2 separate regions of the Homo sapiens genome follow, and region 1 is linked to region 2. Evidence: fine-mapped expression QTL. A gene starts in region 2. The other region holds a variant in brackets. All regions are shown on one strand. Distances are from middle to middle. Region 1 holds the start of MIR3142HG (MIR3142 host gene). Region 2 holds the start of ATP10B (ATPase phospholipid transporting 10B (putative)).

Region 1 (10,732 bases), 390 kb before region 2:
AGACAATTTTCCCATGGACCAGGGCAGGGGGATGGTTTCTGGGTGATTCAAGTGCATTACATTTATTGTGTACTTTATTTCTATTATTATTACATTGTAATATATAGTGAAATAATTATGCATCTCACCATAATGTAGAATCAGTGGGAGCCCTGAGCTTGTTTTCCTGCAACTAGACCGTCCCATCTGGGGGTGATGGAAGACAATGACAGATCATCAGGCATTAGATTCTCATAAGGAGGGTGCAACCTAGATCTCCTGCATGTGCAGTTCACAATAGGGTTCGCGCTTCTATGAGAATCTAATGCAGCTGCTGATCTGACAGGAGGTGGTACTCAGGCGGTAATAGGAGCAATGGGGAGCGGTTGTAAATACAGGTAAAACTTGGCTCATTTGCTCTCTGCTCACTTCCTCCTGTGCGACCTGGTTCCTAACAGGCTATAGACCCATACTGGTCTGTGGCCTAGGGGTTGAATCTGGAAAAGTATTAGGAAGGGAAATGGATGCTAGACAGCCAGTACATAATAACTGTCCACCAGAATAATCAACTGTTTATTTATGGACTACCTCCTACACGTCAGAATGGCTCTAAACATTTTACATGCAGCAACTCTTTTAATCCTAATAAAAGCCCTGTGAGGTACGAATATTTTTTTCTTTTTTCTTTTTCTTTTTTTCTTTTTTTTTTTTGTGATGGAGTCTTACTCTGTCGCCCAGGCTGGAGTGCAGTGATGTGATCTTGGCTCACTACAACCTCTGCCTCCTGGGTTCAAGTGATTCTCCTGCCTCAAACTCCCGAGTAGCTGGGATTACAGGCATCTGTCACCATGCCCAGCTAATTTTTGTATTTTTAGTAGAGATGGGGTTTCACCATGTTGGCCAGGCTAGTCTTGAACTTCTGACCTCAAGTGATCCAACCTCCTTGGCCTCCCAAAGTGCTGGGATTACAGGCATGAGCCACTGTCCCCAGCCTCCAATATTTTTTCTGTCCCCAGGTTGAGGCGACAGAGGCAGACAGAGACCAAGTAGGTGGCTCATTTGGCAAGCAGAAGTGAAGGGATGGCAGCCAAGCAGTCTGCATCCTCCAACCCTCTGGTCACAACACTGTGCCATGGTTTTTACCAGACTCAGGCTGGGAACCACAAGAAGTTCTGCTCTACGTAATCATTTCCCTAATACTATTTGCTGTAAACTGTATTTTCCCTTGAGATGCTTTTGAAAGAAGATGATGTTCCCATATTGCCCTAGATCATTCTACTTGGTTGAAAACTTTTGGGTAGTTTTTTTAATACTTTCATGCTTTTAGAATGCATGAGAAAGACAACCACTGTTTGCCTCAAATTACCCTTAAATGGCACTTATCTCTGCTCTATAAATATTTACTATCTGTTGGTGCATTGGATCTATGTTTCTAGTCTTTTGTCTGTAATGTTTTACTAGCAGCATGGCTAGTGTTGTTTTTCTTCACCCAGAGGTTTTGAAGAGGCAGAGTTTGTAGAGGGGGAAGCAGGTTGGGGGGAAGATGTCTATGAATCCCTGCTTTCTGATCTCCTTTCCTTCCCTTATATTTCCTCCTGCCTCTCTCTCTTCCTTTATCTATCTTTCAAACTAACAAATTCCCCCTTTTTATAAAAGTCTAATATGGTTAATTTTTTTTTTTTTTTGAGATGGAGTCTTGCTCTGTTGCCCAGGCTGGGGTGCCGTGGCACGATCTTGGCTCACTACAACCTCTGCCTCCTGGGTTCAAGTGATTCTCCTGCCTCAACCTCCCAAGTAGCTGGGATTACAGGCATGTGCCACCATGCCCAGCTAATTTTTGCATTTTTAGTAGAGACGTGGTTTTGCCATGTTGGCCAGGCTGGTCTTGAACTCCTGACTGAGTGATCTGCCCGCCTCGGCCTTCTAAAGTGCTGGGATTACAGGTGTGAGCCACTGCGGCTGGCTTTAATTTTTTTTTTTTTTTTTTTTTTTTTTTTTAATGTAGAAAGCACAGATGAGAAAAGGTAAGAAAGATCTCACATAGTCCCATCTTCCTCTTATCTTTTTGGTGTGCTGTTTTGCTTTTTGCACAGATACTAGATGACAACAACAAGCATTTCATAGCATTATTTTCCCTTTCAAAAGACAGCTAGAAGGTTTAAAAAAGTTAAGTATTCTTTAGCATCGTCATTTAAAATAGAGTAAATGTGCTTACGTTGCAGATGTGCCATAATTTAACCAATTCCCAGTTTGGGACAATTAAATTTGTTGCTAATATTTTGATGTTAAAACAGCTTTACTCATGAACATTTTTTGGCTAAATCCTTGCCCACGTTATCGGTGACTTCCTTAGTTTGCTGGGCAAGGATGTGTTCCCTTTGGTAAGTCATGCCTGCCTTTCCTCTGTTCACCTTCCAGGTATGGCAGTCTGCAATGTTAGTATGCACAGAAACTCATGGTGCCCTTGTGTGCCATCATCAGTACTCCAGCCCCTGTGGACTTCTGAAGGAGAGGATGCTGTGCTTCTCTTATAGGCCCAGTTCCTTTGTTTCCACATCTAGCTATGCAGAGATTTCCCATTTACACATTTTCAGTTTCAGGAGCAGAGTCTCAGGATGCAGGAACACAGCTGGTATCATTATTGTTTTTCTGCATATTGATAGTGGCAGCGTAATGTGATCCTTTTCCCTTGCGCAATGCTTTAGATAGCGCTCTGGATGTCCAGCTTGGGAAAAGGCCACATGAGACACACAACAAAGATATTTAGTAGGTGATCTCTTTGCTCTGTCATTTCCTGGGGCTGCTATGAATCATGTATTATGTTTGGCACTTTACTGGCTTTTAAAATAAATGTAATCTTTAATGCAACCTGTCAGGTATTTGTTACTTCTGATTTTATTAAAGAATGGCTTAGAGAATTCAAGTTAGTTTTTCTCAGCAAGAGTCTAAAGCCCAGCTTTTCGACGATTTCTTGTTGCCTTTACAGGTATTTAAACTGGTCAGAGAGATAAGTTCTGCACAAATGAAAATTCAAAAACATGGTATAAGGTATCTCTGCCAGACAGGCTTGTGCTCTGATGAAAGGAGGGAGAAAGTGTGGGCTGTGGCAGGCAGGAGGGTGTCTAATGATTATTATGCTTGATATGCAGCACCTTCGTGGGCCAAAGGGCATTTGGTTACATGAGAGTTTTCTTTGGATATAGGAAGTCCAGCAGGTTCACTTGAACCTGCAGGGACAAGGGAGAGCTGCATCCCGAGTCTGAGCCCCATCTAAACTGCAAGCCAGCTGATCAAGTACCAGCTCTAATCCTTACCCCAACAGCGGCTGTCTATTTGGGGAATTTCCTGAGTTTAAGAACCCCAAGCATCTGAGCTACCGAGTGGGCTGGAAACACAAACGTTGTCGTGACACTTGGGGGTATTTTTTTTATAATTGTATATGTCACAATTTCCTACTACCAGATCAAAGAGTCTGAGGGCCAAAGAATTCAGGTGGAGACTTCCCCACAGTACTCAGGGCATACCTGAGGGTCATCTTTCCAGTCTATATTTTTGTACTTTTGAGCCCACACTGTGACATTTAAGGTGAACAACAGCGAGATTCTCAAGTCCCCTGTATGTGCAACGTAAAACATGGAGCAAAAGCATCCCTTACACATGGGACCAGGTAAAACATAAGGGACTCTAGACACTGTGTGTCTGTGCTTTTCCAGGGCTCATGAAAAAAAAGTGGCTCCAAAATTCAAAAGGAAAACACAAAATTAAAGTGAGTAAATGTTTAATTTAATGGTTCCTCAAGATAACATCATAACACTGAATTGATTTATCAGCTTTAGCTCATATATCAACATCACCACGGAATTATGCAAATTGAGGACATGGTTCTGATATACGCATGTCTCAGTTAACACAGTACAGTAATCCCTTGGTATCCAAGGAGGATTGTTGCAGGACCCTCTCATGGATACCAAAGTTTATGGATGCTCGAGTCCCTTATATAAATGGTGTAGTACTGTGCTGTGCAGAATTGAGGACAGCCTATATGGGTGCATTTTGAAATATCTAATTCAATGGTGGAGACGGGGAGGGAGTGAGGTATTCAAAAGGAAGAGTGATGCTGCTTGGAATTAAAGTAAAAACAATGCAGGCCTCAAAAAGTCTTCATAACAACAATGAAGATTGCTTCCTGAGAGTAGACAACAGCTCCAACCCAGTAATTCAGTTAACTTTTGCATTTATGAGTACCTATGAGAAATGTAGCATAACACTTAGTTGGACTGGGACTCCAAACCAGATAAGACAGTGCTCTTGTCAGCAAAGAAGATTCACATTCCTTCCACACAATTCCTCTCTTTCCAGCAT[C/CT]TTTTTTTTTTTGAGATGGAGTCTCGCTGTGGTCACCCAGGCTGGAGTACAGTGGTGCTGTCTCGGCTCACTGCAACCTCCCCCTCCCAGGTTCAAGCGATTCTCCTGCCTCAGCCTCCTGAGTAGCTGGGATTACAGGCACCCACCACCACACCCGGCTAATTTTTATAATTTTAGTAGAGACGAGATTTCACCATATTGGCCAGGCTGGTCTCAAACTCCTGACCTCAGGTGATCCGCCTGCCTCGGCCTCCCAAAGTGCTGGGATTACAGGCGTGAGCCACCGTGCCAGGGCTTCTTTACTGACTTTTAACTCTAGGAATTTATTTAATTTCTGTGAGTGTCTGTCTTCTGGATTTTTGTCTGTGAAATAGAGACGAATACCCATCTTATCAGCATTAAGTGAGATAATGGTGGTAAAGTGCATAGCACTTTCCCTGGCATGTAATATAAGTTATATAAATGATGTTTAAGCTCTCCTCCACCCTACCCCCCAACAAAATGAAACAAAAATGACACGTATTTTGGTTGTAAAAGGATGAGGCTGAATTCATATATCATCCCTGAAAACCTGCCTCAAGATTTTAGAGTTTATTCCTCCCGAGGCAAAAGGCAGCAGATGGAGGTGCTTGCAGCTGATAGCATATAGCTACTTAAATTCTGGCTCCAAGCATCCACTTTCCTGTTTCTGGAAAACTATACTAATGACCCCCAGGTGTCACAAAGGAGCCCTTAGGAATGCCGAAGTCGAGTTAACTGACTGGAACGGGATAATGTACTTGTTAGCAGAAACCAGCAAGGGTTGAGTTCCTTCTGTTTATTCCATTTGAGTCTAGCCCCCAGTTCATGGATCCAAATAATTTTGGATTTCTTTAAACAGAATTGTCGCTAACTGAATTAGGCAGCTTTTAACCTTTTATAAAAACTTCACAAATAGGTTGCTTACTCCTTAATACAACATGGGATGTGTTAAGAGTGCCCTTAACTCTTCTGGTCACCCTTATGCTTCCTCCCTTCCATCAACCCACCCGGTTTCAGCAGATGCTGGAGTGCTTGAAGGTATGCCCAGAGCCCACTCAGATACCTGGGTCCACCCCAAACCCCCAAGGAACTCCCTTCCAATGGGAGAGAATCTCACACAAGGAAATAGTTTTGATGTGGACCCCTTGAGAGGCAGAGTAATGCAGTGTACCAGGTTCAGAGATTTGGGGACAGGAAACCTCAATTCAAATCCTGGCTCTGATATTTTCTAGCTATGTGAACTCTGGCAAGTTTCGACTCTCTTGGAACCTCGGTTTCCTCATTTCTAATCTAAGAATAGTATCTGCTTTTTAGGGTTCTTAGGAGTATTAAATAAGAACATGTTTTTATGAACAGTGTCTGGTGTATAACAATTGCTCAATAAATATTTGCTTTTAAAAACGTTATCTATAGTAGACGTTCAAACAAACCTTTTGGGAGCTCAGCAAGATAAGCAACAAAAACCTTCAGGGGAGGTCAGGAAAGTGACTACATCTGCCTGGAAGCAAAATCCTTTGAGCTGGTCTTTTTCGGTCCATGAGCACGTGACCAAGGAAAGGAAGCTATATTTTCTCGACTGGGAATTTGAATTTGCAGTTGCACATTCCAAAGGCCTTGTACGTTCTTTCCAGTTTGGGAAAAGGAGCAGCTAAGGGCACCCATGGAAACACTTACTAATTGTGTGACCTTAGGCAAGTCCCCCTAACCTCACCAAAGATAAAATTCCCTTATGAGTAAAAGGGGATCACAAAATGGAGATAATAATTCGGGCTACCTGCTATGGATGATTGCTGTGGGATTAGGGAAGATGATGCACGTGATACATTTAGCAGAGTGCCTGGTGCCTAGTAGGTGCCCATTAAAATTTAGCTATGACTGTTCTCTTTAGCTGACACACAAGACTGCCTTGAATGTTCACATTTCCAGAGAAAGGTGCTCAGGAAGATTTCTCAGTGTTCCGCCTGCCAGGTCAGTTTACAGTTCAAAGAATCCCTTTGTTCAAAGGGTGAGCAAATCCAGGCCTCGTGTATCTGCAGCAATGAAACAAGGGAGCTTTCTGCCTGATCTTCTCCCCAAAGGCAGTCTCTCTTTTTAAATGCCTGCACACATGTTATTTATTTATTTTTGGTTAACGTTTAAATTGAGGTTTTGGCTGAAACTCAGCCTGCGCGCACTTGAAAAGCCAACAGGCTCATTGGGCAGCCGATAAAGCTCTCGGGATTTCCCCGCGGGGCTGCGGAGAGTACAGACAGGAAGCCTGGGGACCCAGCGCCTGACCAGAACTTCCTCGGGGGAGGCTGCAGGGGAGCAGGCGCATCCTGCACAGAACGCTCTAGAGCGCGCAGGCCAAAGCACCAGGCTGCTCCTGACACGTGCTGCAAGAGGGTCCCCGACCCGGGGGTCCAGACCCTGCACGCATGATGGGGAAGGTGGAGGCTTCCCCCTCAGCTCCGCGGAGAGAAGCTGACACTGCCAGGCTGGAACCTTCCATTCCGGCCCAGCCTCTTCCTCCCTCGCTGTGCCGAGGAGGGATCTAGAAGGGACTTTCCAGAGAGGGTTAGCGTGCAGGGTGTGGAAATGGAATAAAAGCATATGCAAATAGGCCTTAGCTGCCTTCCTCTACCCCAGCAAATAAGAGTCTCTCCAGAAAGATGCTCTTTCTCCAAGACGCTTGACCGCTCTTCCTTTCCTGGATGGCACCAGCAGGGCCGATTGGAGTGGTAAACCCTGGGCCGGAAGGCATGCCAAAGGGTGGACAGGATGGACAGGAGACAGTAGCACAACGAGGAGGGGGAGAACAGCGGCTGAATTGGAAATGATAAAATAAAATGAAATTTTAGGAGCTCGCTGTGAGTATGAGCTGGGAAAAAATAATCATTGCAAGCTGATTTATTATGTACTTATCTTCTGTTTGAGAGGCAGCAGGCTTTTGTACAGTGGATTATTGCAGAGTAAATGGCACATTAAAGATATAATCAAGATGTTTAAGGCATATTGAAATGACATTAGAATCAAGTAGGTGAGACTTTTGTCATGGTCTAGAAATATAAAAATGTCAGTGACTTGGAGATATTTCCAGTGCTTTAGTAAAGATGTGGCTCCATTTTCAAAAGGGACATATTTTTAACCTTTTGTTATTTTCAGGGTGGGGGGGGATAGAGTGGGGTCAGGAAGTGGTTTAGAATCTCTATGGATGATAAAATAATATGCTTTAAACCTGGAGTTGTAGACTGTGGTCTCTATTTAGCAAGTCATAAACTTTCTTGCAGTGACAATAGCATGAAAATATTGGACAGTAAATATGGTGCTCTTAGGAGGTTTCAGGGTTGGAAGACTATGGCTATTACTTTTTGTTTATTGTGTTCCTATTCTCAATTTCAATCTTGTCTTTGGATAGTAAGAATTTTTTTTAAATTTTCTATTTTTTTAAAAAGAATCTTTTACATACTGAACCTGACTTGTATACTAATTGGCAAACAGTGTCACTTTTCTTTCTTGATGCCTCAATGGGTTTAATTATTGTATTACGGTATTTTCTTGTCATTTGAGACCTTCACATTCAGTGTCCTTTCTTTCTTTTTTTTCTTTTTCTTTTTGAGATGGAGTCTTGCTCCCGGCCTGTCGCCCGGGCTGGAGGGCAGTGGTAAGATCTCGGCTCACTGCAACCTCCGCCTCCTGGGTCCAAGCAATTCTTGTGCCTCAGCCTCGAGAGTAGCTGGGATTACAGATGCGCGCCACAATGCCTGGCTAATTTTTGTATTTTTAGTAGAGACAGGGTTTCGCCACGTTGGCCAGGCTGGTCTTGAACTCCTGACCTCAGGTGATCCGCCCGCTTCGGCCTCCCAAAGTGCAGTGTCCTTTATTTTATTTGTGTGCCCTGGTTCTGCTTTGATTTTGCCCCAAACCCTTCTGAGTGTAGCGCTTTACTGACACTTTATCCCCGTTATTAACAATGGGTTTTTGGACAGAACTGGCTTCTCTTTATTTGTTGTTTTTAAAATCATACTGCTGTCCTTATGCATGGTACTCCTTGGAACAGATAAGCAGCCATACAAGAAGCTCTTTGAGAGAGAGAAGGTGGACTCTGGGGGTCGTGCCGGTTGTTTGGAGTTGTTGGACTGTTAGCTTGTGGAGTGGGTGATGTTTCATCTTCAGGATTCTGTGAGGCCAGGCCTGGGATGCGGGGAGGAGCTGACTGGATGGCTCCTGGTGATGCATTCCTGGGCCCTCTTCTCATCTCTGAATTCCTAGAGTCCCACTTTCTCCAAAGGCCCTGCGGGAATCAGACGCATGCACTTCTTCAGTTCTGTGTAGTTTTAGGTTCTCAGTGGAGGCCTTTGGGCTCAACTTGTAGTAAATATTTGTTTTCTGTGGCTGTCAGCAATCTATAGTCTTGGGTGTGGTCCCTAAAAGCCAGCTTTTGGGCAATTTTTGAACTGCAATGGGGATTCCTCCTTCTGGTTGTTCTACAATCTGGCAAACATTTCTTATTTTGTTCTGGGCTTTAGTCTTATTTAATAACAAGAGAAAATCTTCTATTTTTAACAATAACATGAATTATTTTTATGACTTACACTTTGTAAAGCATTTTTGTCATTTCATGTAATTCTTTCATAAAATTTGTAAGGTTGGTAGAAACAGTAGAATTAGCACATAATGGGAACTTATTAAATATTTGTTAAATGAATGAATTAAATCCATTTGACTGCTAAGGAAATTGAAACTCAAAGAGATCAAGTGATTGATTTAAGGCTCCACTTTCCAGTAGGGACTCACATCTGATTTTTCCCATTCCAGACTGACTCTGATATAATATCTTACATACTATTTGTTACTCTTTCTCCAAGATCTTAGAAAGGTCTTTTGATTCTCTAAGAAAAGATAATAGGACAATGCAAATGCATGGATACACCATCAAAGGGGTGGCTGAGGGCTGTCTACCTCTTTGTATAGTTCTTTCCTAGGTTCCTGACTCCGCTAAAAACTCATATCCTTAAAGATATGACTATTTAGATACATTCCTTGTTGGAGATAAGAACACAAGTTCATTGCTGAATCATGGTGTATATATACAAAAAAAAGAGTGCACAAGTTCATGCTGAGAAAAATGACTATCTTGAATTTTTAATATTTTTTGGAAGTTTGAGCATAAAACTCTGCACATCTCAGGGGAAGTTAATTTCAGAGTTTTGGATGCGGAGCTGAGTATTTTCTCTAGCTTTGTCTCTTGGGGTACTGGAGGGAGTCATGCACTGCCTCCATTTTGGGGTAATCTTGGTGTGTAGCAATCAGCACTCATCTGGCCTACAGTCGTCATTATCAGCTGCCCCCACTGCTGGAGGAAATGTCACCCATATCAGTTCAGACATTAAAATAGTAAGAAAAGAGCCAGTTGTTCTAGCCAAACCCAGAATTAGGCTTAAGGTCGCCACTATGTACCAATAACATCCATCAGCTCGCCAGAGACTTCCTTCAACCGGGGACACCAGGAACAGAGAGAAGGAAGAAAAATTTCCCTGTTAAATCTAAAGCAAATTAGAGAGGGATGCCAAATGGGTGTTCCCCACAAGGGCCTTTCCCTTTGACTTCTGTAACTCGAGATTCAAAGTTTTGGCTCTGGATTATCTCCCAGAAGAAAGCTGCAAAAACAACTGTGGTTACTTCTTTACTAAACTGATCCTCTTTGCTGCTCCAGTGTGCAATTATATTGCCACACAGATAGTCTCAAACCTGTCAGTCTTTTTTGCAATTGTTTTTGTGTCTCATTGAGAAAGGACTTCCTCAAGTGAAGATTGTAAAGATTTATTTTTATATTTATCTTTGAAACTTCTATAGTTTTTATTGCCATCACATTGTTCATTTGCATTTAGTTCTGTCATCCATCTGAAGTATATTTTTGTGTATGATATAAGACAGATCTGATGTTAATGTTTTCCTCTTTAGGTACTAGTTTTTCCTCTACTTTTTTTAAAAACTAAAATTTTAGCATTAGGATCGTTTTAGACTTATAGAAGCATTGCATAGACAGCACAGAGAGTTCTCGTACACTCCGCTCTTCTGCTTTTTGATTTCTTCCTCTGCTTTGAAAGGACATTTTTACCTGGTCCTAAATTACAGCATGTACACAGATATCTTTCTAGAATCTCATTTTTATTCTATTGGTGATTTGCTATTTCTGCTCCAATGTCACATGTTTAATTATTATTTCTAGAGATTTCATAGCTTTTGCTAGGAAACCTGAGATCTCACAGGGCTTTTAAGAAGTCAAATTCAGCCTTCAGGCAAGTGAAATAATATCAACCCTGTAAGTTGTTGCTGCTGAGGTAACCTGCCAGGAAGTAACACAGCTGCTACACAGGGAAGGGAGATG
Region 2 (12,702 bases):
AACTATATACTAGTCATTCATAACAGAACTAGATATTGGTCCAAGATAGATTGGACAGAAATATCTGGTTCTTCCTCATAGGTAGTTTTTAAGGTTCTGCCATTGACAATTAAAACTGGAAAAGACCAATCCCATTATTTTACAAATGGGAGAATTAAGACCTAGAGTTCACCCAGCTTCTGATCGCCAAGCTAGTAGTTTTTACTCTATAATGCCACCTGTATTCCTTAATGAGTGAGGGTTTGGGATAAAATCAATATTATGATTGCTGCTATTAGCAGTAGTAGCAACTGTAGCTACTACTAATACATATCCAGCGCTTAGTAGGTACCACCACAAAAAATTGCTATTTTTATGTCAAAAATGGTCAAGTATTTATAATTTCACATGGTTCAACTCATATGAAATGCTGATAACAATGTCAAGTGTTTTTAAGCCTTAAAGAAGGAGCATCTGCAGCCAGACTTTTTGGGTTCCCATGTTGGCTCTGTCTCTTCCTGCCACATTGTGGCTGGCAAGTTAATTACATTTTCTCTGGTATAAGTTCCTACATCCACAACATGGAGCTAATAATAGTAACTATCTCAGAGATTTATTGAGGCTTAAATGATCCTATGCGGTTGAAGCCCTTGAAATAGCAACTGGCAGATAGTAAGTACTCAGTTAATGTTAGATGTTCTGGCTACTTCCAATATTACCTCTTCGATTAATTCTCAGGACAATCTTGTGAGGTAGAAACATTTTATCCTCAGTTTATAGATAAGGAGACTGGAGCTCAAAGAGAGTAATTTGAACTGTTGTCTGCATGATTGCAAGCACATTCTCTCTGTCTTACATGCTAATTTTCAGTTCAGTGCCTGTTAAATCAAGTCTAATAGTTCCTGGGGCATTTCATCAGAATTGCCAATATTTGAGTGTATCTAGCTTCTGGGATTCTATAATAGTCAGTTATGTAAAAGACAATGCAAGCTATTTTATCGTCTAAGGAAGAGAAGCAAGTTTCGCCATTTCTCTGTTTTTAGGTCTCCAGATTCACAAGCATATTGTAAGCAATAAATAAGCTGATAACAGCTTCTGATTTTATAACAGTACAGCCTTGCGGTGACCCCTTATGTATTGCTGCTACTTCCCAAAGAACCCCCAAACCTCAGTTAGAACTGTCCCCTGGATTACTGAGAGGGAAAACTCCATGTGGCACCTGCTAACAAGAACCTGTGCTGTTAAACTTGGTTAGTGTTTTATACAAGACCAAAGAAACACTGTCTTCTCTTTTTCTCCTTAAACAGAATAAGTAGTCGAGAAATTCCTTTGAGAAGCAACAAGATTTGATTGAATTTTTCAGAATTTCTTATTATTGTGTCAAGTTCACTTGACAGCAAAGGACAAACTGCCTTTCAAATGCTATAAATGAATGCATCAGCAATTCAGAAGGAAAAACGCGGGTTATTAAGTAGGAACAAGTCTCTCTGAATATATTTACACCAGCTCATGGAAACCATTGTCCTCAGAAACCTCTGCAAAAATCTATTTTCTAGTGTCGGTATTGCTTTAAGTTTGACAGATGATGGTAAAATACAATGAAATTACCTTTGAGCTCTGATATGTATATCAGCGCCCACATCTCTCACAATTTGATTTTTTATTTTTCCAACACAGCCATCTATTTTCAATATTATCCCTGCACACTCCAGGTTTATGCCTGGGGAAAATAACTATTTATGCCTAAGTCATACTTATATGCAGAATTTACACTATATGTAAACATACACACATACAATACACATGTGTAAATACATATTAGTTAAGAGCTGGAAGGAACCTTTCAGATCTTCAAGTCTTTACTGTCACATTACAAATGAAGAATCTGAAGCCCCAACAGAAATGCTATTGAGAAGGCCACACAGAAACCTGACTTCAAAGTGAGATTTGAGAGAATAAGGATGTAGCAAGTTCCTACTATGTTCTGAGGGTTACAGGAGGCATATTCCATTCATAAGTTCTTATACCATTTCTATGATGTTGGTATCACTCCCATTTGATAGATGAGAAAATTGAGGCTTACAAAAGTAGCACAGCTAAGAAAATAGCACAGCTAATAAATGGCACAAATGAAATTAAAGCACTGATGTAACTAGGTTCTTTCTAGCATACCAGCATTTCTCTAAATACATTCACTGCCATATCACTGACATAATTTTGCTAATCCACGTGCCAACTGTATTTTAACTTTTTTGATTAATTAATGTAAACATTTATAAAGGAAAAGTTTATCACCATTTAAATAGCATGCCATAAAGAGAAGAAAACTATTGCTGAGTTTTAGCTGGACCCTGCTGCTACCTAAAGACATCAAAATTGCATCCAGCTCTCTTTGTTGAAATGGGAGATTAGCAATGGGTAGAGAGGTATTAAAGGTCTAGTCATACCAAAATGAGACTTAATGATGGAAAGAGAGTTGAGAGGGAAAACTTTTACTATGTGATCTAGCTATTTGATATAATACGTGAGTATCACCTAAAGTCATCTTTGTCCTACCTAAGATCATTTTTGGTTCTATCATGGTACCTGTTCTTCACTTTGAGAAACACTGCAGTACATATAGTAACTGGGCATGTTCTCCAGGTCATGGTTCTGGAACTCCATCAGAATCACCTGAAGGCCTATTTAAAACAGATTTCTGAGTGATCCCGAGTTTCTGACTCAGCATGTCTGCGGCAGGGCCTGAGGTTTTGCCCTTCTAATAGTTCCCGAGTAATTCTGATACAGCCGGCCCAGGAAGCATATTTGGGAACCACTGCTCTAGGTTGTACTTGGGGAGGAGGAGGTAGAGAACATACGGTAGCATGTGTGTGAAGATTTCACCATCAATCTTGCTTGTGAGTGGAGGGATCTGGAATTTTTAATTAAGCAGATGAGGCAAAGAAACAATGTATTCTTGTGTTCCTGTGTCACTTCTTCAACTTAATGAGTTCAGATTGATACTGCACCATACCAGAGCGACCTGCAAAAACTTTATCTAAGAGACAAAAGTACCTCCTCTCAAATAATACAAGTTGTTTTCAGGCTGCTAACTATCTGCAAGGCTCCCTGCATTGGCAACAGCAGCCAGTGATCACTAATAACGAAAGCAGAAAATGAGATTCTCCTTCTTTTCTCCAGACGTTTAAGACAGTACTTAATAAACAAAAAATGCCATATCCATTAATATTCTTTCTCATCTGGTTCTCTTAGTAGTAACTAGCAATTATTAAGTGCCTTCTGTGGGCCAATTATTGAATTGTACTGGCAATTACACACACACACACACACACACACTCTTTTAATGTGAGCATTTGACAGGCGCAGTAACTTGCCAAGGTTACACAATTATAGGAAGCAGAACTGTAATTCATATGCAAGTTTTATTCCAAAGCCCGTTTTTTTTCTACTAAACAATACCCACTCCTATTCTGACTACCCAACTTCATCTCTTAATAAAAGGGTATTTTATAAAAAATGAAAAGAAGAAAAGGCTCCAGAAACTTAAACTTTGTAGTTAAAAGAATTGTAAAACAATGTCACCAGAAAATGAGAAATCAGTGACATTTAATCAGCAGAAAAGCTAGAACTCCCTAGGTTCAAAGCAAAATTTAAGAATGCCTGGCTAAGTTTTACTTTAAGGAGAGTGGGTAAATGGGTAGAATCAGTCTCAGGAATCCAACGAGTTTTAGTTTACTTTTGAGTCACAAAAGAAATTTTCATTCCCTTCTGACATGGCAGAAGCTGTTTGAAGAATGAAAGTGGTAGTAGAAGCAACACTGGGCCAGGTGCGGTGCTTACGCTTGTAATCCCAGCACTTTGGGAGGCTGTGGGCGGATCACCTGAGGTCAGGAGTTCGAGACCAGCCTGGCCAACATGGTGAAACTCCGTCTCTACTAAAAAACAAAAAACAAAAAACAAAACAAAAATTAGCCAGGCATGGTGGTGCATGCCTGTAATCCTAGCTACTTGGGAGGCTGAGATGGGAGAATTGCTTGAATCCAGGAGGCAGAGGTTGCATTGAGCTGAGATTGCGCCACTGCACGCCAGCCTGGGTGACAGAGCAAGACTCCATCTCAAAACAAAACAAAATAAACAAGAAGAAGCAACACTGGATTGAGAGCTCTGAGCCTTGGACTCTGGTGTCCTTTTCTCTCAGTAATTCAGACTTCATTTCTCTAGGTCCTAGTTTTATCATCTGTAAACTAGGCAGCTAGACTAAGTTCCATTCCATTCCTCAGAGCTCCGTTCCTTTGAAAGGCAGCCTCCTTCACTGGACTTATCAGTATCACATGCTTCAAAAGATAAGGCTCATCGTTTAGCACGAGAGGAGTATGATTTAACTGTAAAAAGTCAGCATGTGGGTTTCAACCTTCAGTTTCTCAAGAGCCTATTAATCCACCCATATGTGATGTTATACTGCTATACTCTTTAAAAAATACATGATGAAAACCTGAGGAGAGATCCTGAACCCTTAAATCCATATAATTAGGCTGTAAGAAATGAATTTTCCAAGAATTTTTTAAAAAGTCATCAATGGATGAAATGACAAACTCAGTGGGTGTTATTAAGAGTAATTATAGTAACATCTAGACAGAAAACAACATCTGTGATCTGCCTGATTAATGGCTTAATGTAACTGTATGTCTGTTAATGGAATAATACTCCAAGCAGTCTTGACTGTACATTTGCAAGATCTGGAAACAGAGAAGAAACTGTGGAAGAAGGAAGTAGCAGAGTGCCAGATTGGCTTTGGGAGGTCAAGCTCCTCTCTACAGTTTTCAAATTCTCCTCTGCCTACCTGGCAAATTCAGAGAAAATTGCCTGGCAAATTCAGAGAAAAACCAAGTTCCACCAGACACAGGCATGCACTCCTGTAGGCAAAATAACTAGCAGCTCAGTATAATTTTTATTTTTAACATTACTTTTCACCTTAGGGTTAGGGATAGTGTCACTCCAGCCTTAATAGCAGGCCACAGGACTGTCCTAAATGTATTCATCACAGACCTGCATGCATGGGGCTTTTTTATTTTTTTTCTGGAAGGAGTAACTCATACTTAGGGAAAAAACACATTTTTCTTTAAGCAACAGTTTTCTCCTTTGAACTCAAAGGAAAGTCAAGCTTCCCACCTATAGTTGAAAACTACTGCAATATGGCAGCTTCAGAGTTTATCAAGATGAAATTGGGAAGCCATGTAATGATCTCATTCTCTTCCTCAAAGCTATAGTTTCTTTCTGCTTTGAGAAGAAGGCTGTAACTCCATCTGCTTCCTCAGGCTGCACTGGATGAATGCAGGATAGCAGGATATATTATTTATCATAAAATGTATTCAGGCACATTCAGACTGCAAGCCCTGTTGAGTGAGGAAGTAGCATTTGCCATCAGCTTATCATAATGAAATCAATTGACGAAAAATAAAACATTCTGTTAGAAAAGAAATGTGGATCTCGCACCCAGAAAGCCAAATGAAATTTCAAATGCAGTGTAAAGAAAAGTAGTCATATCCTGGGCCTAATTCAGAACTTAGACTTGATGATTCTAAGAGGCAATTACTCCCCCATTATATAGGTTAAGGCCAGGATGCTTTTACTTACCCCAGCAAAGCTGACGTCCCTATTGAGCAGACTCCAGTAGAAGAAAACAGTGCTTGAAAGTGGCGGTATTTCTCTCGCACACCTTGGCTAAAATAGTTCTCTTTCCTATGGAATTTTTCATTTTTCTGATTATATCTGATTATGTCAAGGCAAGGCCTCAAGCTAACACTCCCTCAGAAACTTAGAGAAGATGACACACTGAAAAGAAATAACTGTGACCAATGAAAGAAAAAGGAAAAATAAGCTGCCTCGCTAGGCCCAAGAGTGAAAGAGAAGAATAGCAAGTCTGTGAATGTGAGGCCGAGTCCCAGAACAGTGAAGGCAGTGTTCTTCGACTTGGCTGAACATTTACATTGTTAGACATGGTTCTTGCATAAATTTCTACTTCCTGTGAATCAATGAGCCAGCAATATCAAAATTCATGGTGATTTTTATTCTCTACGCATGGTACAAAATGACTTTGTCCATCTACCTTTGGTAATGCATGTAATTAAGTGTGAGACAATTATAACCTTGCAGTTCTCTTTGGGGGGCCTGAAATATGATTCAGCTGCTGGGTTTCAAGGGCACTTAAGAAAGAAAAGACTCTCTACAGTGACTTTTATATGCATGCTGATGATGAATTTGCCCTCAAAGCTTCAGAAGTCTCATTTTGCAGTAGTCATAGTTTTTATTGATTACTGTTTGATTATACAAAATAAGGAAAGTGGGACCAATATATTATAGTGGCAGATTATGTGAATGGTGCAAACTTACAGAAAATCAGAATTAGTAATGGGCTTATTGATAGCTTCGATTCATACCCTAAAATGAGATTTTCATGTATAATCCTTTTATTAAGTTACCTACAACTCAACTAATTGGCATAAATGTCATGAGCAAGTTGCTGTATTGATGGATAATTATTGATGGGTCCATAAATAAAAGAGAAGGTAGAATGAGCAGTAAGTTGATTTTAAGGGTAGTAAAAAAAAGAAATATTACCAAACTTAGGAATAAAAGGTGTTGGAAAGAAGTGAACATACTAACTTCATGAAAATCTTTACATAAGATTTTGGTTGGTTGGTAGAGTAATTGTGAACTTTGTATGTACCTACAGATCTTATCAGAATACCAAGAAGAAACATGGACATAGGAAACATTTTACAAGAGAAGAAACACCCACACCATCTAAAATCTGCATCGCTGTGTGTGTAAGACACAAGCTAGGAATTTTTAAGAACATGAAATTTGCCTATGCTTTAGACAGTCTAGAATTTTTAAAAGAGCGAGTTGGCATTTCAAAATTCTCCATCTGCTAAAGAGAAGAATGCTTAAGTCCCTGTTCCTTTACTTCCCTTCACTCAGAGTGCTCTGGCTTCTAGGGACGAGTGTGGTCTAGAATCACAGATACGGTTAAATTGCAGAATATTGCACTAGTGGGTAACTGGAGGTTATTTAGTGAAGCCCCCTTGTGCCATGGAGGAGAATGCTGAAGCTCAGAGAAGTGAATACAATTGCTCAAAGCCAAACAGGAATTTGGTGGTGAACATGGGACCTCAAACCACATTGTCTTTCTCCTAAGACTAGTATATTTTCCATCACTGGTCTTTCTCCTAAGACCAGCTCTTTCCCATTATCACTTTCCTGGTAAAGAGAGAGGCACATGCAATTTAGGAACAAATGTGTCTGTAGCATCCCTTGGGTTTTCATGCTAACCAATGAATAGAGAGTCCTCAAATATGTTCATTTTCCAAACTGCCTGGAAATCGTAAATACTAACAGACATATGGCAAATTATTTATAAAATGTGTTGAAATTAAGTGACACTGTCTGGCTAATTAGAACCCTAATAAACAAATAATAGATAAGAAATGCTATGTTCAGTTTTTATTAGAGGGACTATCTTTCTTTTGTTTGGCTGCTGGAATTTTGTAATAAATCATATTTTAAAAATCACACTCACAGAGTTTTACTTATAGTTCCTATTTCCAGCAGGCAATCTTTCTACACTAAGGCAATTTAGCATTTTTGTATGTATTTGCATTTCTTATTGACCACATCATGCTTTTCATTCCTGATTTTTACACAGTGTGTCATGTCTAGCTTTTGTATTCTTGCTGCCCAAACTAGTCAATTAAAGAAGCAATGGTAGACAGAGGCTTTTGCTCCCATCCCCGACACCAGTACCACACAACCAGGATGGATTTCATAATCTTAAGACTATCTTCTACAAGCTGTGCAAGTGTTATTAGTGGTAATTTTTATTTTTTATTATACTTTAAAGTTCTGGGATACACATGCAGAACATGCAGGTTACATAGGTATACACGTGCCATGGTGGTTTGCTGCACCCATCAACCCGTCACCTACATTTGGCATTTCTCCTAATGCTATCCCTTCCCCTAGCCCCCCAACCCCTGACAGGCCCCAGTGTGTGATGTTTCTTCCCTGTGTCCATGTGTTCTCATTGTTCAACTCCCACTTATGAGAACATGTGGTGTTTGGTTTTCTGTTCCTGTGTTAGTTTGCTAAAAATGATGGCTTCCAGCTTCATCCATGTCCCTGCAAAGGACATGAACTCATCCTTTTTTATGGCTGCATAGTATTCCATGGTGTGTATGTGCTACATTTTCTTTATCCAGTCTATCATTGATGGGCATTTAGGTTGGTTCCAAGTCTTTGCTATTGTGAACAGTGCTGTAATAAACATACCTGTGCATGTGTCTTTATAGTAGAATGACTTATAGGGTATATACCCAGTAATGGGATTGCTGGGTCAAATTGTATTTATGGTTCTAGATCCTTGAAGAATCTCCGCACTGTCTTCTACAATGGTTGAACTAATTTACACTCCCTATTGGTGCTAATTTTTACTGAGTACTTTGTGCCAGCACCATGTTAAGTGCTCTACATACTTTGACTCATTTAATTCCCTCAAAAACTTTAATAGATTGACGCAATTATTCTTATTCTACGAGAGAGAAAATGTAGGAAAAGGAATAAAATAACTGTGCTTTCACATAACTAGGAAGTATCTGGGACTCAAACTACAGATTGTTTAACCATTCACCTTTGAAGGACATCTGAGTTATTTCCAGCTCTGTTATAAAGTTGCTATAAACATTTGTGCACAGGTTTTGTGTGAATAGAAGTATTTTTCTAGAATAAATGCACAGACAGAAGTTTAATTCCTGGATTGTATGGTATGTTTAGTATTTTAATAAATGCTTGTTTAGTATTTTAATCCTAGATGTATTTGCACGTTTAGTATTTTAAGAAACTGCGATATTCTTCCAGAGTGACTATACCATTTTACTTTCTTACCAGAAATGTGTGAGGGCCCTAGTTTCTCCGCATCCTCACCAGCATTTGGTGTTGTCACTACTCTTTAGTTATTTCAATAGGTGTATAGCAATATCTCATTTTGGTTTTAATTTGCATTTTCCTAATGGATAATGATGTTGAGTATCTTTTTATGTGCTTATTTCTCAGTTATATATTTTGTTTGGTGAAATATTTCTTAATGTCTTTTGCTTATGTTTTAATTAATTTTTGTTTGTTTTTTTTTTAGTTTTGAGTGTTCTTTATATACTATACCTTTGTCGGATATGTGGTTGGGAAATGTTTTCTTTCAATCCATAACTTATCTTTTTATCCCCTTCACAGGGTATTACACAGATCAAAAGGTTTATTTACATCAATTTTTAAAGCAATATTGAATCAATTTTCCTTTTCACTCTTTGCATACTTCTAAATCTTAAATATTTATCCTATTTCTCTAAAAATTTTATAATTTTATGAATTACATTTAAGTCTATGATCCATTTTGAGTTAAATTTTGTGTAAACTGTAATGTTAAGATCAAGGTTTCCTTGTGTGTTTATTTGGATTTTCAATTGTACTAGAACCACTTGTTTTATGACTGTCCTTCCTCCATTGAATTGTTCTTGTAACTTTGTAAAAAAAAAAATTAGTTGCATATTTGTGTGGATCTATTTCTGGATTCTGGATTCTTCTCCATTGTTTATACCCCTGCCAGTACCAGTCTTGATGACTATAATCATATAAATCTTAAAATCAGGTAGATAGATTCCTTCCACTTTATTTTTTTTCAAAATTGTTTTAACTATTCTTGGTTTCATGCTTTTTCATATAAATTGTATAATAATCTTGTCTGTACCTAGAAAAAACTTTTTGGATTTTGATAGTGATTGTATTAAATTCATATACTAATTTGGGAAAAATGGACATCTTTACTATTTGAATAGTCCAATCAATGGACATAGTGTGTCTCTTCATCTATGTAGGTCCTCTTTCATTTATGTTATCAACATCGTGTAGTTTTTAGCATATGAGTCCTGTACACATTTTGCTTGCTGCACATATGTTCTGGCTGGTATACCAAAATAGAATAAATTTCTGTATGTTTATCTTGTATTCTGCAATTTTGGTGACTTGCTCATTAGTTCTAGGAGTATATTGTAGATTCCTTGGATTTTCTACAAAGACAATCATGTCACCTGCAAATAGAAACGGTATTATTTCTTCCTTTCTAATATGTATGCCTATTATTTTATTTTCTTGCCTTATTGCACTCACTGAAACTTTTAAGGCTATGTTGAATAAAAGTGATGAGAGTGAACATCATTGTCTTGTTCTCAGTCTCAGGGGGAAAATATTAAGTCTGTCACTAATAAGTATAATGTTAGCTGTATATTGTATGTAGATGATTTGAGTTGTATGTAGATGATTTGTATGTAGATTTGTATGTAGATGATTTGAGTTGAGGGAGTTCTCTTGTATTTCTATTTTACTGAGATATTTTTTATCGTGAATGGATTTTGAATTAGTTTTTTCCTGCATTAATTCCATTTGAATTTAATTAATGCATTAATTGATATGATCATGTAATTTTTCTGCTTTAGCTAGTTAATGTGGTCTATTACATTAATTGATTTTCAGATCTTGACCTAGCTTTGCATACCTGAAATAGACTCCATTTGGCCATCATGTATAATTTTTTAATTGATGAATTTTGTTTTCTAATATTTTGTTAATAACTTTTGCATTTATATTCATGAAGGCTTTGGGTCTATAATTTTTTATACTGTTTTTCCTGGTTTTGATATCAGGGTAATACCAGCTTCATAAAACAATTTGAGATATAACCTATTCTACTTTATCTTCTGGAAAATATTTACAGAATTTGAATTAATTTTTCTTTAAACAAATTGTAGGATTCCCCAGTGAAATCATCTGGGTCTGGAAATGTCTTTTTTGGAAGTTTTAAAATAACAAATTCAGTTTCCTTAACAGATATAGAGCTATTGGAAGTATCTATTTTGCATTCAGTGAGTTTTGGTAGTTTGTATTTTTTTTTTTAAGGAATTGGTCCATTTTGTCTAGAGTTGTCTATATTATTTTCTTATTATCCCTTGATTCTGCTGTGTCAGTGGTGATATCCATTTCATTTTTGATATCGGTAATTTTTGTCTATTCTCTTGTCAGTCTTGCTGGAGGTCTATTAATTCTATTTGTTGATCTTTTAAAAGAACCAGCTCTTTGCTTTGTTGATTTTCTTGTTTTCAATTTTAGGGATTTCTGTTTTTTAATTTATTTCCTTGTGTTTGCTTTGGGATATTTTTATCTTCTTTTTCTATATTTCTGAGATGGAAGCTTAGATTATTAGAGAAAATTTTCTCTTTTCTAGCATAGGCATTTAGTGATATAAATTTCTCTCTTGGCATTGCTTTAGCTGTGTCCCATTAATTTTACTGTGTTGTATTTTAAATTTTTGTTCAGTTCAATGTATTTTTCCCTTGAGATTTGCTGTTTTATTCATGAGCTATTTAGATGTGTATAGTTTAATTTTCAAGTGTTTTCAGATTTCTTTTATCTTTCTATAACTAATTTCTAGTTGGATTTCATTATGGTCAGAGAATGCACTCTGTACAATTTTAATTATTTTAAATTTGTCGACATTCATTTTGTGGCTCAGAATATATTATTTCCTGGTATTTGTTTGATGGCACTTAAAGAGAATGAATATTCTACTTTTCTTGGGGGAGAAGTATTCTACAATTGTCTATTAATCTGTTTTATTTGATGTAAAATTTTTATATTCGATTTTTTATTTTTTAAAAATCAATTGAGAGTGGGGTATTGTGGAATTGTCCATTTTTCCTCCTTTCAGTCATATTGGTTTTTGTTTTACATGCTTTGTGACTATGTTGTTTGGTGCATACATATTTAAAATTGTGTCTCCCTGGTGGATTGAGCTTTTGACCATTATATAATGTCTCTGTCTCTGGTAATTTTCTTTGTTCTGAAGTTTACTTTGTCTGATATTAATATAGGTACTTTTGTTTTCCTTGGATTAATGTCTCCATAATATATCTTTTTCCATCCTTTTATTTTTAATCTGCTTATATTGCTGTATTTGAAGTCAGTTTCTCGTAGAAAGCATGTAACTGATCATTTTAAAATCTACTTTGTCTATCTTTTTTTTAAAATAAATTTTGAATTTTGTTTCTCAAGTCACTGGTATGTAAACTGTGTTCCTTGGAGTCCCAGATATTTTCCACCTGCCAGTGGGTCTGTAACTGGAGGAAAAAGGCAGGCTGCATGGTGAGGTTCCAGGCCCCAAACCCCATGTTTTAATTGGCATAATCACTTGCATATAATGTGATTATTAATATGTTAGGGACTAAGATTACCATTTTGTCTTTTTCTTGTTTTCTTTTTCTTACCTTCCTGTGGTTGTTTGAACAGTTTTTTAGAATTCCATTTTCAGCTTTTGCATTTTTGAGTATATCTCTTTGTATAGCTTTTTGAATGATTTAGATATTGTATTATATATACACAACTTATTACAATCTATAGTTTTATCATTTTACCAGTTTGAGTGACATATAAAAAATTTACTTCTTTTCTCCTTCCTAATTTATAATATAATTTTCATAAATATGTCCTCTACATATATTTAGAAGCAAATGAAACGTGTCATAATTTTTACTTCAATAGTGAAACATAATTTAGAAAGTTTAAGAAAAGCCTATTGCATTTAGCTATTTTTTTAAATTAACATGTTATATTTTCCTTTCTGAT

What was found. PIP is the estimated chance that this variant, and not a neighbour inherited with it, causes the effect.
Region 1: its variant is fine-mapped to the expression of ATP10B in monocytes after R848 (Quach 2016, PIP 0.94).

Annotation. Positions count from the first base shown.
Region 1 is chr5:160,461,230-160,471,961 of GRCh38, forward strand. It overlaps MIR3142HG (MIR3142 host gene), which reads left to right and starts at 7,022. Exons shown (of 2, transcript NR_132748.1): 1 at 7,022-7,211. RefSeq lists enhancers at 1,206-1,285, 5,966-6,602, 6,603-7,239, 6,707-6,936, 6,967-7,126. The variant C/CT (reference allele first, on the strand shown) is at 4,342.
Region 2 is chr5:160,846,328-160,859,029 of GRCh38, forward strand. ATP10B (ATPase phospholipid transporting 10B (putative)) reads right to left here and starts at 5,884. Exons shown (of 26, transcript NM_025153.3): 1 at 5,614-5,884.